Linked DNA regions of Homo sapiens: region 2 is linked to region 1. The links come from fine-mapping of genetic effects on gene expression. Tissue or cell type: whole blood. Region 1 holds a variant in brackets; the other region holds the start of a gene. All regions are shown on one strand. Distances are between the middles of the regions.

Evidence for each region. PIP is the estimated chance that this variant, and not a neighbour inherited with it, causes the effect.
Region 2: it holds the start of TTC21A, and the variant in region 1 is fine-mapped to the expression of TTC21A in whole blood (INTERVAL, PIP 0.93).

The regions. Positions count from the first base shown.
Region 1 is chr3:38,903,273-38,911,376 of GRCh38, forward strand. It overlaps SCN11A (sodium voltage-gated channel alpha subunit 11), which reads right to left. Exons shown (of 30, transcript NM_001349253.2): 12 at 6,794-6,935; 13 at 5,725-5,922; 14 at 4,677-4,850; 15 at 1,920-2,049; 16 at 593-831. Among named protein-coding and RNA genes, the nearest start is that of SCN10A, 91 kb to the left of the region's middle. The variant C/A (reference allele first, on the strand shown) is at 4,078.
Region 2 is chr3:39,104,478-39,112,570 of GRCh38, forward strand. It overlaps TTC21A (tetratricopeptide repeat domain 21A), which reads left to right and starts at 3,203. Exons shown (of 29, transcript NM_001366900.1): 1 at 3,203-3,387; 2 at 4,608-4,737; 3 at 5,552-5,662; 4 at 6,374-6,540; 5 at 7,981-8,093. The coding sequence starts at 3,361. It overlaps GORASP1 (golgi reassembly stacking protein 1), which reads right to left and starts at 3,150. Exons shown (of 9, transcript NM_031899.4): 1 at 3,002-3,150. The coding sequence starts at 3,064. RefSeq lists a silencer at 2,780-3,099.

The DNA.
Region 1 (8,104 bases):
ACAGTCCTTGAAAAGTCTGCTCCCCTTAGTTTTCCCAATTTAACTGAGACTAGATCTATCCAATGAGAAACATATTGAAGCAGGCTCAAGTCTGGAAATTCACCCCACCCCAGCCTGACCAACCCCCAAACAACCCCTTCCAAAAAAGTGAAACTTCCACAGCTGACAGGCCCTGATTCATCTTTCCAGGGAGAATAACACCTAGTAATAGTAGTCACATTATTTTGTGACAAATGATGTCATGAATATCACTGGGACCACAACAGCCATTACCACGGTTCTCTGGATATGGTTAACATTTTCTTGATTATCTCAGAGAGCTGAACTTTTAGGATGTCTGCTTGTATCTGGCTTACCACTGAATGGCTAAAGAGATACCTGAACATACCAGAGGGCCAACTCAGGACACATGGACAGTTTCTGAAATGAACCGGGTAAAAGTAAAACCGTAACAGCCATCTTTTCCCTCACTCCACTGAAGGGGACCAAAAACCTAGGTTAGGTTAGCTCATTCACAAAATGTTTAGACTTTGAAAAAGTTATACTTTAAAGTATGAAATATGTTTTTTATTTTTAAAAAGTGTAATGTTACCAAATTCCCTATATTCAACATCTTCTCAAAACTGGCCTCCATCTTGTGATGCTCCATGGCCAAGAAGACAGTGTTGATGATGATGCAGATGGTGATGGCCAGCTCAGTAAACGGGTCAGTCATCACAGTTCTCAGGACCTTCTTAACGCACAGCCACTGGGGGCAACAGTTCCACACGAGGTACTTGGATGCCAGGTTTTCTCCACAAGGGAGACAAGGCTCTTGTGATTTTTCTTGTTCTGGAGGAGAATGAGCGAGAGGTTGAGGAGTTAGCTCTGAAGCAATCCAGATGCCCTTTGCCTGAGTGCATTCCTTCCTCCCTCTTCCCCAGGGCCTCCTGATACATGATCAGTTGTGAAATGTTTTGATTTGTGTAGTCAGAAAGGTTTTTCCACCAATCTTAGTGCAGAAGAGACAATGTTCCACATACAACTAGCATGCGGTACAGTCAAGTCCATCAAATATTTACACTCTTACTGAGCATCCAGGAGCTGAGCTTTGATGTTAGATATATAGATGTGGAAATCAACATTGGCTGGCTGTGAATCCAAGAGAGAGATAGATACAGGCACAAGTTATGTCCACTCAAGACAGACCATAAGGTCAGCTGTAACAGAGGCAAAAGGGGCAACCAGGGCTCAAGGGAAGGGGCATCTATAAGCACTGAAACAGTAAAAGGGACTCTATCCTCTAGTTGAGTTCAGACCATCCCTGATTTCCCTGGCACCGCTGCAGGGACACATGCAGGGCAAACGAGATGATGCAGTAGGCTTAAAAGTGCTAGAGGACCTATTTGACCCCCCTTGCAGGGAGTAAATCCTGCTCCTGAACACCAACCCCTGGGGTGGGGTCCTGTTACCTGCTATTAATCTGGTCCATCAGATGGCTCCAGCCTTTCTACATAGGTCTTCTATTGCCCATGTGGGGTTTCTGACTCTAACTTCAATAACAACTGCCACCTCCTGGAGACTTCAAAGTCTTCTGTTCTTTGACTGACTATTGTTGTCACTTGGATCTCTTGTGACTCCCAGGCCTGGTTTGAGGCCCTGTTTATGCATTTTGTCTGAAGTCCCATCCCAAGTCTAGCCAGCTTCCACCTCTACCCAGGTGCCAGTTTAGAGTGGGCCCACAGGGAAGGTCTGCTTCTTGTGAGCCACTTTGTTTACATGCTCCAAAGAGGCAAAGGAAGTCACTCTTTGCAGGATGGTACAGTGGGTTGGTTCCAAAACAGCCTCCTTTGCAGAGGGCTTCTAGGGGATTGGGAAGAAGAAGAATGGAAGGACATCACTGAAGTAGACTTTCCCTTGGATTGGGATGTGGAACTTACCCTTCATGGTGATGGTGAGGATGCTGACAGCACTCAGTGCTCTCTGCCTTTGGAGAGGATCTCCATGCTCATCAAAGTGGTCCAGTGATAGATTCTGGGACAGTCGTTTGGTTTGCTCTAGGAGCTGTGGCTGTAAGAGAAGGCATAGGGCACCTTCTAAAGACAGGGGCTGCCTCTCCTCAAAACTTAACAAACTACTTTGTTCCAATGCTACATGTAATGAAAGTGCTCAACATTTTCTATAGGTCTACTCACCTCGTCTTTACAGCATGCCAAATATTCAGTTTTCTTATTTCATGTTTAACAAATAAGAGAAATCTGGTTTGATCATTCATATTTCCTATGCATGCACATTTCTAGAGTCCTACCTACAGACATTTTACTTTCTCTGTGTTTCATTCACTGCCAACAAAGAGCAAACAAAATTTTACAAAAACTAGTAAGCAATGGTTCCGGGTATGAAAGCAATACAAAATCCAATTTGTAAACAATGTTTAAAGGTAAGAAGTGGAGTATAAATTTAGAAAGGTGGACTGGAGCCAGATTGTGAAGTGCTAGCTGCAGTTGTGAAGTGAACAACCGCCTATACGGTTTTTAAAACGGTTGGTAACTAAAAAGAACAGTCCCACTAAATATCACAAAATCTAGATCCTAAACCTCAAACACACTCTCAAGCTGGGCCCAAGGGCTAGCTCACTCTCTCACATCTACCTACAATTCTAAAGTTACTGGAATTAAACAGTGCAAACCTCCAGCTATCCAGAAAATTTGGGTTTTCCTAGTGGCTTATTTTCCAAGGGTTCCGACTCACCAGAGCCCCAGAGGGAACTATCTTTTTTGTGATAAGCCAATCTAGATAGTCTTTCTATGAGATCTCTCCCTATTACTACAGCAGAGAACTGATCATAGCAGTGGATGGGATCCTTCTACCTACTTCTGCAAAGGCCTCTCAATTCCCTTTCCCCACCACATTATCAGGCATACATATCCACCTTCTACCTACTACATCTCCCTCTATCTCAGGAAAGTGGCTCTTGCCATCTTTACCTGTATCTTTAGCATCTTCCTCTCTTCTGACTTTTCTCTGGACAATTAAAATATGTCTGAACATCCCCCTCCTTAATGATAAGAATAACTTTTTCTGCTGCCCATCCCTCCCCCACCACCAGCTTCATTTCTGCACATCACGCTGCCTAATCAACATCCCTGCTTGGAGGTCCCATAAGCATCTGGAAATTGGCACATTCAAAACTGAATGAGCCATCTTTCCACTCCCAAAATGTGTACCTTTCCTGTCTCCATAAATTACCCTCCATCAAGTTAGCTAATCATGTCGGAAACCAGGTCTTATCCCCACACTGTCCATCAAGTCAACTGCTAAATTTTATCTTCTCCAGATCACGGTCGTCTGTTAATTGCTCTTCATCCTCACTTCCCTAACCCTGGTTTAAGCCACAGGCACCTCTTACTTGGTTACTGCAACAGCCTCTTAACTGGTCGCCTCCAGTTTTGCCCTCCTCCAATCCCCTGTCTTCAATGCATCCAGAATTTCATAAATCCAGTCATATCCCTCTCTTATATAAACCTTTCAATGCTCTTTACCCTTAGCCCTCATTGAAAAGGGTAAACTCTCTAGCTTTGTTTTCGAGGTCTTTTGTGATCCCCCAACTGATCACTATAGCCTTGTGCCACCCACCCTCCCCCAGCCTCATCACACATGTGCATGCATGAGCGTGCGTGCACGCGCATACACACACACTGGCAAGTTTTCTAATGGGTCATGTTCTCCTGCTTGCCTTCGCTTCTAGGCTTTTGCACATTCTATTCTCTCTGCAGGTAATGCTCTCTTTTTCCTTTTACTGGTGAATTCATCCTTTCAGCTGACACACTGCATCTTCTGGGGACCCTTTTCCATTGCTTTTCCCCCAGGCCCCATGAATTCTGGATGCTGTTGGTTTTCCCACCCATATGTCCTTACTTGAGGACTTTCTCTAATGATTCAAATCCTGTCTTCCTTAGTGCACAGCAAGTAGGAAATTAGAGGGAAATTATTGTCTTCTGTCTTCAGCAATCTTTAATCTATGATGGTCCAAAGTTGGTATATATATACCAACATATATGTGTGTGTGTGTGTGTGTGTGTGTGTGTGTGTATATAT[C/A]TATATATACACACACACACACACACACACACACACACACTTTGATGCCCTTACTTTGGAAGGATTAAACTCCAACTACCTGGCTTCAGTGGTAACTGGCTTGATAATGCATCTTCATTGGTTACCTTCCATTCCATATAGCACTTCTTCCCTCCTTTCCCAGTGCTTCCTGGGATCACTTCCCAAATAATCTACTTGCATTGTAATGTCTTTGGGTTTGCTTCAGAGGGAGCCCACACTGACACATAGTTCCTCCTCTGTTCTCCCACAGCAATCAGCACATCAGTCATCACACTGACTCATAACTGCCTTCTTATCAGTATATCTTCATCATTAGCCGTACACTCTGTGGAGTATAAAACATGTATCCCTAGCACCTATCCCAGTGCCAAGAAGATAGTAAACACTGTAAACACTCTAAATTGATGTTTACAAATAAATGGATAATTGAAAAGACACATGGATGCATGAAAGTATGTGCAAATGGATGAATGAATAAATGAGTAACTGAATAAATGAATTATTTCAATTTGATTGGCAATTGGACCTGTCCCCCTGGACAGCAATATGGTATCATTAATTCCCTGGAAAAGACTTACCTTTTTTTGGCAATCTTCATCAGAATCTGACCCAGGAGGCTGGTCTTTCCCAGACTCTCTCAAAAAGAAGGACTTCCTTTTCTTATTACCAAAGAGCTTTCTCTTTTTTGGGGTAAAATATGATGTTTCAAGGGAAGTAAGTGAACTTCTGTCAATTCCCATGGCAACCAGAGCCTTCAAATTGAACAAAAGCAATTAAAGAACAGATTACACCTCCTCATGAAACATTGCAAATGACCCCGACCTGAGAGTGGTGAAAATCTCTCTTCTGGTAGCTCTGTATCATTTAAATTGCTCATCATCTACCTGGACTACGCTAGCTCTGTTATTTATCTGGGGAAACATGTCCTGTTTTTGCACAGAAATTGCAGCCACCAAAAGCAGCATTGACTCTTTCATATCTCTGTGTCACTGCCCCTTAGCACAGTGTCCAGTATGCGCTAGGCACTCAATAAATACTTATGCCTGATAGTGCAGATGTTAAGCACTTACGATGGGCATCCTTCTGACAAATCTTATAGAGGATCAGTGCGAGTATAAAACATGGTCCCTGTCCTGAAAATCTGAGACTTGAGCTGGAAGAATGTAAAGATTCCAAGGAAACTATTAGAATGGCCTATAAATAAGACAAGGATTGCAGACAGGGAGAGGTGAACATTATTCTAGAGTCCACCTCAAGCAAAGGCGCCGAACACAAACATCTCCAGATTTCCAAAAGAAAGCCTGGAGCACAGCCTGGATTTACATATACTTATGTTGTATCGTCTAGTCAGTAATTTAGGGCATGTCTTAGAAGGCTTAGACTTCAGAAGGTCAAAAAGCATCAAGACCAAGCGTTCCCCGTTTTGAAGGGCCTGGTGCCTGGACAATTTTGTGAAAGATAGCAGCACAGCCATTCTTCGAGGGACTTATATTCTCAGAAAAGCACCAGTAGAGAAAGCACTGAGACCAGGCCAAGGGTGGCAGCCTTGAGTCTCAGGTCACATTGCCTCTGGGGACCCCTTCCCCTCCCCAGAGCAGATCCCACTGTCTGACCCCATGTCCCTACCTCCTTTTCCTCCTTTAACAGCTGCTGGGCTTCCTGAAACATCTTTTCCTTGGCCTCTATCTCTGCAGCTACATTCTTGTTCTGCTCCTCATATGCCATGGTAACAACAGCCAGGGTTAAGTTAATCAGGTAGAAGGAGCCCAGGAAAATGACCACAATGAAGAAGAAGACTGAGTAGAGCCCAGTAGTACGCAGGGTCTGCAAAGGACAGAGCATGTTCTTGAATATCAAACCTTCTTCCACAGGAAAGTGACCATCACCTCAAGCAAAAACCACACAGTAGCAGACAACTGGTCTTCCCCCAGCACTGGTGGGCTCAGTTGACCACAGACCATATAGCTTCCCTAATACTCCAGGGATTCCTGATGCCCTATCTCTCAGTGGGGAGATACTATCCACACCTTCACATGGAAGTTTCAGTGACTTTACTATCTATAACTCTCTCAAGAGTATCTGCATTTTTAAAATAAAAGTGGCAAGAGAGATAGGGCAGTAGGGAATCTGGAGGGGGCTAACATTTCTAGGAAGAGGAGGGGTTCTTTGGAGTCTTCTTCCAAATATTGCATTTAAAATTTTCTTGAAGTTTCTTTTTTTTTTTTTTTTTGAGACGGAGTTTCACTCTATCACCCAGGCTGGAGTGCAGTGGTGTGATCTCGGCTCATTGCAACCTCCGCCTCCTAGGTTCAAGTGATTCTCCTGCCTCATCTTTCCAAGTAGTGGGGATTACAGGCACCTGTCACCATGCCCTGCTAATTTTTGTATTTTTAGTAGAGTTGGGGTTTCACCATGTTGGCCAGGCTGGTCTCAAACTCCTGACCTCAAGCCTCAGCCTTCCAAAGTGCTAGGATTACAGGCGGGAGTCAGCGTGCCTGGCCAATTTTCTTGAAGTTTCTAACAGAATTAGTAAGGCAGAATTTAACAGTACAACTGTTAAAGATGAGACAGATGATAAAAGTGGGGGATGAATGGTAGTTATAAATAAATGGTAAATAAATAGGTAAGTGATAGAGGGGGAAGGAAAAGGATGGAGGGAGGGAGAGAGGAAAAAGAGAGACTATAAATAGATAACCTGTTGATAAAGCTTCTCCCAGGAATCTTGGGTCATCAGCCGGAACATGGCAAGAAAAGACCAGCCAAAGTTGTCAAAATTCGTATAATTATAGTCAGGATTAATTTTGGTGTGCTTACATTCATATTGTATGGAACAGGCACTAGATATTGGAAACAAACAGAGAAATAATTATGTACGCCACAGCCAAGCTTCTTTTTCCTTCCAACGACTCTGGTTTTTCCAAGGGCTGTGGGATCACACCAGGAGCCCTAGAGGAAGGGAGTATTTGTAAAGTGGCCCACTGCACTGTCTGACAAGACTCTTTTGCTAATGAACTGATTAATAAATTCATATAAGATAGTTTTTCATTGAAAAATTGAGTACAGTGACACGTGAACAATGAATAGTATAAAAGCACATACAATGAATATTAAGTCTTCCTCTCTTCCCAGTTTCCTGATCCCACTTCTTAGAGGCAATAGTTAACAGTTACTTTTGTAAATTTCCAGAAGTTTGCTATGACTATACAGCACATCTATATCTACACACAACTTTTATAATACACAAAAATGGGAACATGCTTTGCACTCTCCTGCACCTTGCTTTTTTTAATGGAACAATATAGTTCAGAGCTCTTTTCATATCACCATACAGGGAGATATCTTATTTCTTTTCATGTCTATAGTTCTATGATTTATTTAACTGCTCTGCTAATGATGAATATTTAGGTTTCAGTAATTGACAGTCCTTCACTCTTACAAACATTTGGGCAATGAATATCTTTGAACATAGGTCTTTTCACATATTACCAAAACACAAATTATTGAGTGTATCTATAAGATGTACTAAGGGTATGTATTTCTTAGTTTTTTAATAAATAGTATTTTAATCAAAGTAATACATGCACATGGCTTAAAAATTACATGCACCAAAAAGCTTATAATGAAATCAATTGTATAATTCTTTAACTGTCATTTATACACCCCAAATTCAACAACTGTTAACTCTTCTACCTCCGTATATCTAAATAGTGCTTACACTGATATTTGATTTATCAATTGTAGTTCGTGTTGATTAACTTCTTGCTATGGTAGACATTTTTTCTTGGCTTTTTCATGTTGCTTTTTTATGTTTTACTCCCTCATTCTTCTGGAGCACTTGTCAATTAGCTTCTTAAGAAGATTGTGTAATCTTTGCATATATGAATATATATTTATTCCATTTTCACAATCAATTGGTAGTTTGGCCAGAAATAGAATTCTGAGTTGGAAGTTTTTCCTTAGCAATATGAAAGCACTGCTCAGTTATTATCCTGTGTTGCTATTAAGA
Region 2 (8,093 bases), 200 kb after region 1:
AGGTCTTTGGCTGCGGGCATTTGATAACCTGTTGGCGTAGACACCAGCCAGACCCAGCCCAGAGGGCACAGGACCTAGGCTCTTGCTGCCTCCTCATGGGAAAGGCCCTGTGGCTCCTGCTACATACCAGCCCCTCCAGGTTTGGATTCCCCAACCTGAAGGAGAGCTCATGAAGACTAGGCTGAGAACAAACCGCTGAGATCAAGGCCAGTTTGCCCCTGGAATTAGGATTCCCTTCTGGCAGCATCACCAACTGAGCCCCTCCTTATCACCTCCAGAAGCTGCCATGGCTTCCAAAGGGAGTGAGTGCGGCCCAGAAATCAGATCTGGGCCTAGTTGGCCTGGCCCAGTAGGCAAGCTGCTCCCAGGCCCCGCTGCAGGGGAGCTCTGGGCCCTGCCCTCTAACCCTTCAGGTGAGGGGATCTTTCGAAAACCACAGGACAGGACAGTTATTCAGGAATAGCTTGGGGACAATGCCCCTCCCTAATCAGGGCCACCTCCAAATCACTCCACGTCAGGTGCCTGCCTACTTCCCTCCCCACTCCCCAGTATTGCATGTCAGCTGCTCTCCATCATGAATGAGGTCCAGAGGGTCAGGCCCCAGGCCTGGCCTCCTTGACCCACCCAATACCTCCACCACCCTCTCCTGTGGCTTTGTCCTCTGCTTGGCTACACTCCACTTCTCTCACCTGGGGCCTCATCACTACTCACTATGGCTCCGCAGCTGAAATAATCTATGCTGCTGCCCACTGTACGGCTCCCCCTGCAGAAACCACTGCCTGCCATCCAGCTCCCTCAGGGGCTCCCATCACAGCCTGCCCCAAGGCCCTATAGTGCTGCTTTTCCTCATGCTCCCACCCTATTTTTCCCAATCAGGGAACCTAATGGAACTCACAGTGATCACAACTTACACTTACTAAGGGCTGGTTGGCTGAGTGCCAGGGCATGGCACCACCTCACCTGCTTTATGTGTCATTTAACCTTTTTAATAACCTCAAATGACAAATGAGACCAAGTACTCAATAATTCAGTAATTTGACCCCAGGAAATCCAACCCAGAGCCCTCCCCCTAACCACTGCCCTCTCCTAACAGCTGTTTCCTGGTGAATCTGCCACTACTCTAAGCTCGCTGAGGGCAGCGACTTCTCCAAAGTATTGGGCACGCAGCGAGGTGCCAATATTTCTAGAATGCAGCACAGCTGTTCTTCAGTGTTGTTAAAGGTAAGTAGGTCATGTCACTCCTCCATTTAAAACCTCCTGATGGTTTTACATCTCAGAATAAAATCTTAAATCTTCAGGACAACAGGCAAGGTCCTACACGGTCTGCTCTGGTCTCCTCCTCACACTGGCCACACCATCCAAGCACACCAGCCTCACCTGGCATTTCCTCAAACACACAAGCACAACCTACCTCGGGGCCTCTGCACAAGCTGGTCCTTCTGCCTGGAATACTACTATTCCCCTAAATATCTGTATTGTCCACTCTTTACTTCCTTCAGAAGCATCTGTTCGAATGTGACTTGAGAAGAGGCCCTTCCTGACCACTCTATCAAAAATAGCACCCACTCACCATTCTGTATCCCCTTAACCTGCTTTATTTTTATCACTGGTAATTACCACCTACCATGTATTTTTTCATTTCCCTTCTTTCCCTACCATCATCCAAATGTCAGCTCCAGAACAGGGACCATGTTTGTTCTGTTCACTGCTTTATCTCTAGAGCCTTAGAATTCTGCCTGCCAGAGTAGGAGCTCAAAACTTTGTTTTTGTGACTGACAACCTCTGATCCCTGGTCCCTCTCCAATTTGTCCCTCTCCATCAGGCAGGCCCCTCCCGTCTTCGAAGCTCCCATCATCGCCCCACCCCTCCTCTTGCCAATATCCTGAGTTCCTTTGCCTTTAATCAAACCTGTTGGAAGACGCTCCTGGCTGGATGCATTCCACTGTCCACGCTTGCTGTTTGGTGTCTCACCATAAGAAAGCCCATTCCCAAGCACAAATCCTGTCAACTCTGGGTTCTCCAAGCCAGCCTGGTTTTCACGTTAAGAAACTTTTAGCCCTCTCATGTGGTTAGCTGGCAACAGACCCTACCTTCAAAACACACAAACCGACAAGCTTGCCTGTCTCCACTCATCTCTGCATCCAGCTGCCTTTCACTAGGGAAAGGGGGGGTGCAGGGACGCCTCTTCCCCGCAGCGCTCCGGGGTCAGAGACCCCCAGCCCCTCTCACCTACATTATAGCCCTTCCCTCACCGCAGGCACAAATCTCCATCCGGCTGCGGGACCCTCTCCTCACCCTCACAGCACACTCCGTTCTAGGAACCCCACTCCGTCTCCACTCTCCGGAAGCCTGCTCGCCCAGACCTCCATGTAGCGGCATCTAAAGGCTGGGACCCTCCCCAGCTGCAAACGCTCTCCTCGAGGATTCTGCAGCACTCTCCCGGCCCTCCCGCTCCCCACTATCCCGTGGCTGGTTTGCACCGGTCCTCTACCCTCGGAAGCCCTTACGACCCTACGACTGGCAGGACGCGCGCCGACGGGCTCCCCCGCAGCTGCGTCCACTCGGTTAACCCCGGCCCCCGGGACTGTCCTCGGCGTGGCTGACTCTCTTCCCAGGCCCAGCACGGAGAGCGGCCCGCGGCAGGCGAGCGTAAATGTGTGCTAAGTGCACGAGTGCGTCCCGACTGGTAGTGGTGCATTCTTCACCCGGGAGGAGCGCCATTCCCGGCGGCCGGACCAGGAAAACGCTCCGCTTCCGGCACTGCTGGCACTTGGGGCGGGCGCTGGGCCCGACCGCGGCCGCGGACTAGCCAGGGTCCGGGAGTCCCGCGAGGCCGCCTCTCCCAGGAGGCTCCCACCGGGCAGGGGGCACCTCCCGCCACCCAGGCGGAAACACTCGGGCCGGGACCCCGCCGCAGTCGCCAGCCAGCCGGCGACCGGACGCCCGGGCGCGGGGTTGCGGGCGCCTCGCCAAGGTCACCGGCGCCGCGGCGGCAACTCACCCCGTGGAGGTGGAAGCCCTCGGCGCCGCCTGCGGGCTGCTCAGCGCTGACGCCCAGGCCCATGGCAGCGGCTCCGCTCGGCACCCAGGTCCAGTCCCGCTGCGCCTACCCGGACCGACCCGACGCCAGTAGCACCGACTCGCTCTCTCGGCGCTCGATTCCTGCGCCTTGTGACGTGAGGCGTTTTGTTCCTCCCACTCCAGACACTGGACGCTCCTAGCAACCGGCTAGCAGCTCGGTTTCCAAGGACTGTAACGCCTTCAACCGCCCGCCGCGATAGAGTGCCCACGACCCTGCCTCGGGAATCCCGCTCTGCACCGCCCCACCAGACCCGGACTCGGAGCCGCGAGCGGCCCGAGATGAGCAGCAATGACTCCTCCCTTATGGTGCGTGGCCCGGGCGCTGTCCGAGGGCTCCCTCGTGACTCCCCGCCCCTGACCCAGAGACCGTCTGCCCTGCTACTCTCCTGCCACCCTTCGCTGTCCTCAGTTATATCAGGCGGTCCTGCCTTTTCTTGCCCCACTCCCCCTGGCAAGGGCGTCTTCTCCGGTGGCTTCTGCGCACCCTGAGCCCCAAATTAGCATCCCCGTTTCTTGAGCTACCCCAAACCAGCTCATCCAATCACTATCATTATCCCTTCTTGTCATCATCCCTTCTTCCACCCAGCTCACTCTCGCCTGCGCCTCCCACCCCAGTTGATGGCTTCACCATTTAATCTCCTAGCCTTAACTCATACCTCTTCCCTATACTCATCTTCTAATCCTGTCTACAAGAAATGCCAGCTCCTTGATGTCTCCTGGGTTTTCTTTTTATCTTTTTATCTTCTAGCCCAGAACCAGCACCATCTCTCCCCCCTGAGAGCCTGCAACAGCCTCCCTCCCATCTGGTTTCTCTGCTGTGGCTCTTTTCAGCATCAGTAGTCCCTGCTGCCACCACGGCACACACCCCCCACATGCAAAAGCAGCCAGAGTGGTTGTTGCAAAAATGTACATCTGAAAACATCCCTCGCCTTAAAACCATTCTGCTTTCTGTTACCCTTAGGATGGTGTCTGGGCTCTTTCATATGGCCCATGAGGATGTTTACAGTCCAACCACATCTGCTCCCAACCTAGCACCCACAAACCTTAGAGGAAGTGAAACTTAACTTTAAAATCTCAGCCCCTTTGTCAAGCTGTAGTTTCCATGGGCTTAAGCTTCCTTAGCTGTGAAAGATACTGAGAGGACCATGCACAGGATAGTGGATATGAAGCCCACAATAACTTGTAACTACAATTCGTATAATTTTTCTTATTATTTGTCCTCATTTTTCCCCCCTTATTCCCTTCCTAAGACAAAGCCTTGGTTGAATTCCCCATCATAGTTGAACCAGAATCTGTTGGTAATCCCCCAAACAAACACCTCCAAACTCTTTCCTGGGAAAACTGCATGGAGCTGCTCCCAGGGCTGTTAGAGGACAGGATGAGGCCTGAATGTTTCCTCTTTCTCTTCCCTTTGCAGAACTGAGGAGGAGCAGGGGATAGGGAAGGGAGCAGGTCTCATCCCATCTGGGACAGAACAGAGACAGAGAAGGGACTGGGCTATTGCAGTTATGTCTTCCTTCATACAGGCTGGGATCATTTACTATAGCCAGGAAAAGTACTTCCACCATGTGCAGCAGGCTGCAGCTGTGGGCCTGGAAAAATTCAGCAATGACCCTGTGTTGAAGTTCTTTAAAGCCTATGGAGTCCTCAAAGAAGGTAAGGACTTGGCAGTGTTGGTCTTGTGACCCCAGGCACTAGCTGGGCCCTAACACTCTGGCTCCACCTGGATGCCTTCTTGTATCCTAGTTATGGTCCCATAAAAACAGTTTCACACTCAGCGGCTGGATTCCCACGGGAATCCACAGAGGCCTACGTAATCCATATCTAGTTGACTTTTGAGACCTCAGAGCGCTGACTATCCCTGCTCTGCACCTCGGGTTCCCTCTCTGTAAAATGAGTGGTTGGAGAGATAGCTGCATGATTCTTGAAGTAATTCCAGGCCTGGAAGCTGAGAACTGGTAATGCAGGCAAAGGAGGGGGAAGAGGTAGGTGTGAGGACAGGTGGGTATGGTACAGGTACAGGGAGAGGAGTGAGACCCATGCAGGTGCAGATGGGCTGACATTCAGAAGGTGGTCCTAGGCTGAGGACTGGCAGAATAGCCCATGGCCAAATGTCTGAGGACATGGAGGGATAAATGTAATCAGTGGCTCTTGAGCAGTAGCTGAGAATGCCCTGCCTGAGGTCCTTCTTCAGAACTGACGCAGCTAATAATTGCAGCCTCACACATATCCCCACAAGTACTCACAGGGTGAACCTTTCAAGTCCAAGATTTCCAGCCCCTAACAGCCTGGACCATGTTACCAGCAACTCTTTCAAAGAGCCCCAATCTTCAGGGAACTTGGGTCACTGGGGACCTTTCAGACCAGTTAGTCCAGCAGGTAGTAGTGCTGAGCTGTTGGGTCAGCTACAGAGTCTCATGTCCTCTAGTCCTGGAGCTTGAGAGTATAACTATGTGGACTGTCTTTGCAGAGCACATCCAGGATGCCATCAGTGACCTGGAAAGCATCAGGCATCACCCAGACGTGTCCCTGTGCTCCACCATGGCCCTCATTTATGCTCACAAAAGATGTGAAATCATTGGTGAGTGCCACCATGCTCAACCAGGCCTGACCCACCAGGGGAAGGAAAGCCCTGCCCCAGAGATAACACAGCCCCTCAAGGGCTGCCAAAGGAGGTATGTGCCCTGGTGGCTGTGCAGATGCTGTTAACCAGTGAGAAGTGGCTGCTGCTCCTCTCCCCCTGGAGGCCTGGGAGAAGACTCCATGCCTGGGCCCAACTGAGTGGAAGCAGGCAGAGCCCATGACAGTGGGAGGGGCCCATGCTCCAGATCCCAAGAGTTGGGGAAACACCCTTCTTCTTTGCCAAGATCTTGTCAGAAAAACCAAGCCAATATATATAATTCTACCCCTAATCTCCACATTTCTAGAGTCAGGGAGAGGGTCCAAGAGAGACTACAGACTACTATTTCCCTACTCACAATAAGTTGTGGGCCTGAGGCTAAGGATTTTGGTTTGGCCTGCCTGCTCAGCACACTGCTGGGCACAGAGAAGAGAAGGTAATCTCAGACAGCACACGTGAGTCCACACCAGGGCAGCCCCTGCAGCATCTCAAGGGCAGGTACTGCTGGTTTCCAGGCCTTGGGCTGCATGCGGTGTGCTGCATATGTTGAAGGAGATCCACAGTGTCTGGGGGAGACCCCGAGGTAGTTCCCTGGGCCCTCGGTGGCCCATGCAGAACCAGGCAGACTTCCACATCCTAACTCTCCCTCTTCCTTCGCTCTTGGATTTACAGACCGAGAAGCAATTCAGGAGCTTGAGTACAGCCTGAAGGAAATACGCAAGACAGTCAGTGGGACTGCACTGTACTATGCTGGCCTTTTCCTCTGGCTCATAGGCCGCCATGACAAGGCCAAAGAGTACATTGACCGCATGCTGAAGATTTCTAGAGGCTTCAGAGAGGTACTTACCACACCATGGGGACAACAGGCGAAGAAAGCAGCATCCAAACACATAATAGCAGGGTGGCCCTCATTCCCACAAAGGGCCCTGAAACTGGGGGAGAGCCACACCCAGGCACTGGCAAAACACCGGGTCTCACAGTTGCCCCACGCGTGTTGTCTCTGGGCTTAGCAGAGGTTACACATTGGCATTTGTACACAGAGTCTGATCTTTAGATAGATTTTCTATGGCTTGCACCATATTCTTAAGAAATTTTTTTTTGAGACCTCACTGCAGCCTCAACCTCCTAGGCACAAGCAATCCTTCCACCTCAGCCCCCCAAGTAGCTGGGACCATAGGTGTGTGCCAGCATGCCCAGCTAGTTTTTACATTTTTTGTAGAGACTGGGTCTTGCCATGTTGCCCAGGCTGGTCCAGACTTACTGGTTCTTTTGAAGACCCAGATGAGCTGGCCACACTGGGCCATTCCCTCCCTGTAATGCTCTGCTGGAACTGAATGGTGGCTCATGCAGTGCAGCCCATATACTGTATATCTGCACTAATATGGAATTTGAAGCCTCAGTCTAGGCCATGCCTTCTCAGCAGGGCTGATACCAATTTTCAAGGGTGTAGACATGGTCCCTGGGGGAGAGGGTGAAAAAAATCTTACTCTTTATGTATAAAACACAGATATATATACAGTACACAATACACAGATACGGTATATCTGAGGCACTAACATTTCTTGGAAGGGGAGGGATTGATTAGAAAACAGTATCTAAAGAGACTCCTTAGGATAGATAATAGAAAAAGAGAAATAGAACTATAATAGAGAAATACTGATCTAGGCCATCAAGAGGGGTGCTTTAGGGCAGGGCTCTTCCAAGTCTGCTTCCCAGGCCTGGCCCTCCCCATCTGCCTGGAGAGGCTGGGTGAAGGCTAACATGGAACCAGCGAGGTCCACGAGCTCAGAACGGCTCCTGCTCACCCACTCAGAGGGCATTCCTTGGCTTCCTATGCAGGGCCAGGCCTCGTGCTGGCCTAAGGAGTGGAGACATCAAGAGTGGCCTTGCGTAGGCCCCCATGTTGGCTCCTGACCCCAGTGTAAACAGGCAATGACAGGATAGGTGAGTGTGCCTCAGTAAGGGTCATGGAGAGCTGTAGGGGTACAGGGAGGGAGGCCTCCTAAGCAGGGGCCTCTGAGGCTGAGTTGTAAGTAGTGGTAATGGACATTAGGTGAAGGGGTTTGGTTGGGAGTGGGAGGGGCGCTGTCCAGGGCATTTCCAGACAAAGCAACAATGGGAGTCCTGGCCATGAGAGAGAGCTGGCTGCCCTGGGATCTGCACGGGACTGTGCCTGGCAGGGCCTCAGGGTTTTGGGTGGCAAAGTGTGGATCATGTGCAGGCTGAGTTGATTCTGTGCAGGACCAAGGACTTCATCTTTCATCTTGTTCTCATCCCAGGCCTATGTGCTCAGAGGCTGGGTGGACCTGACCTCAGACAAGCCCCACACTGCGAAGAAAGCCATTGAGTACCTGGAACAAGGAATTCAGGACACCAAAGATGTGCTGGGGCT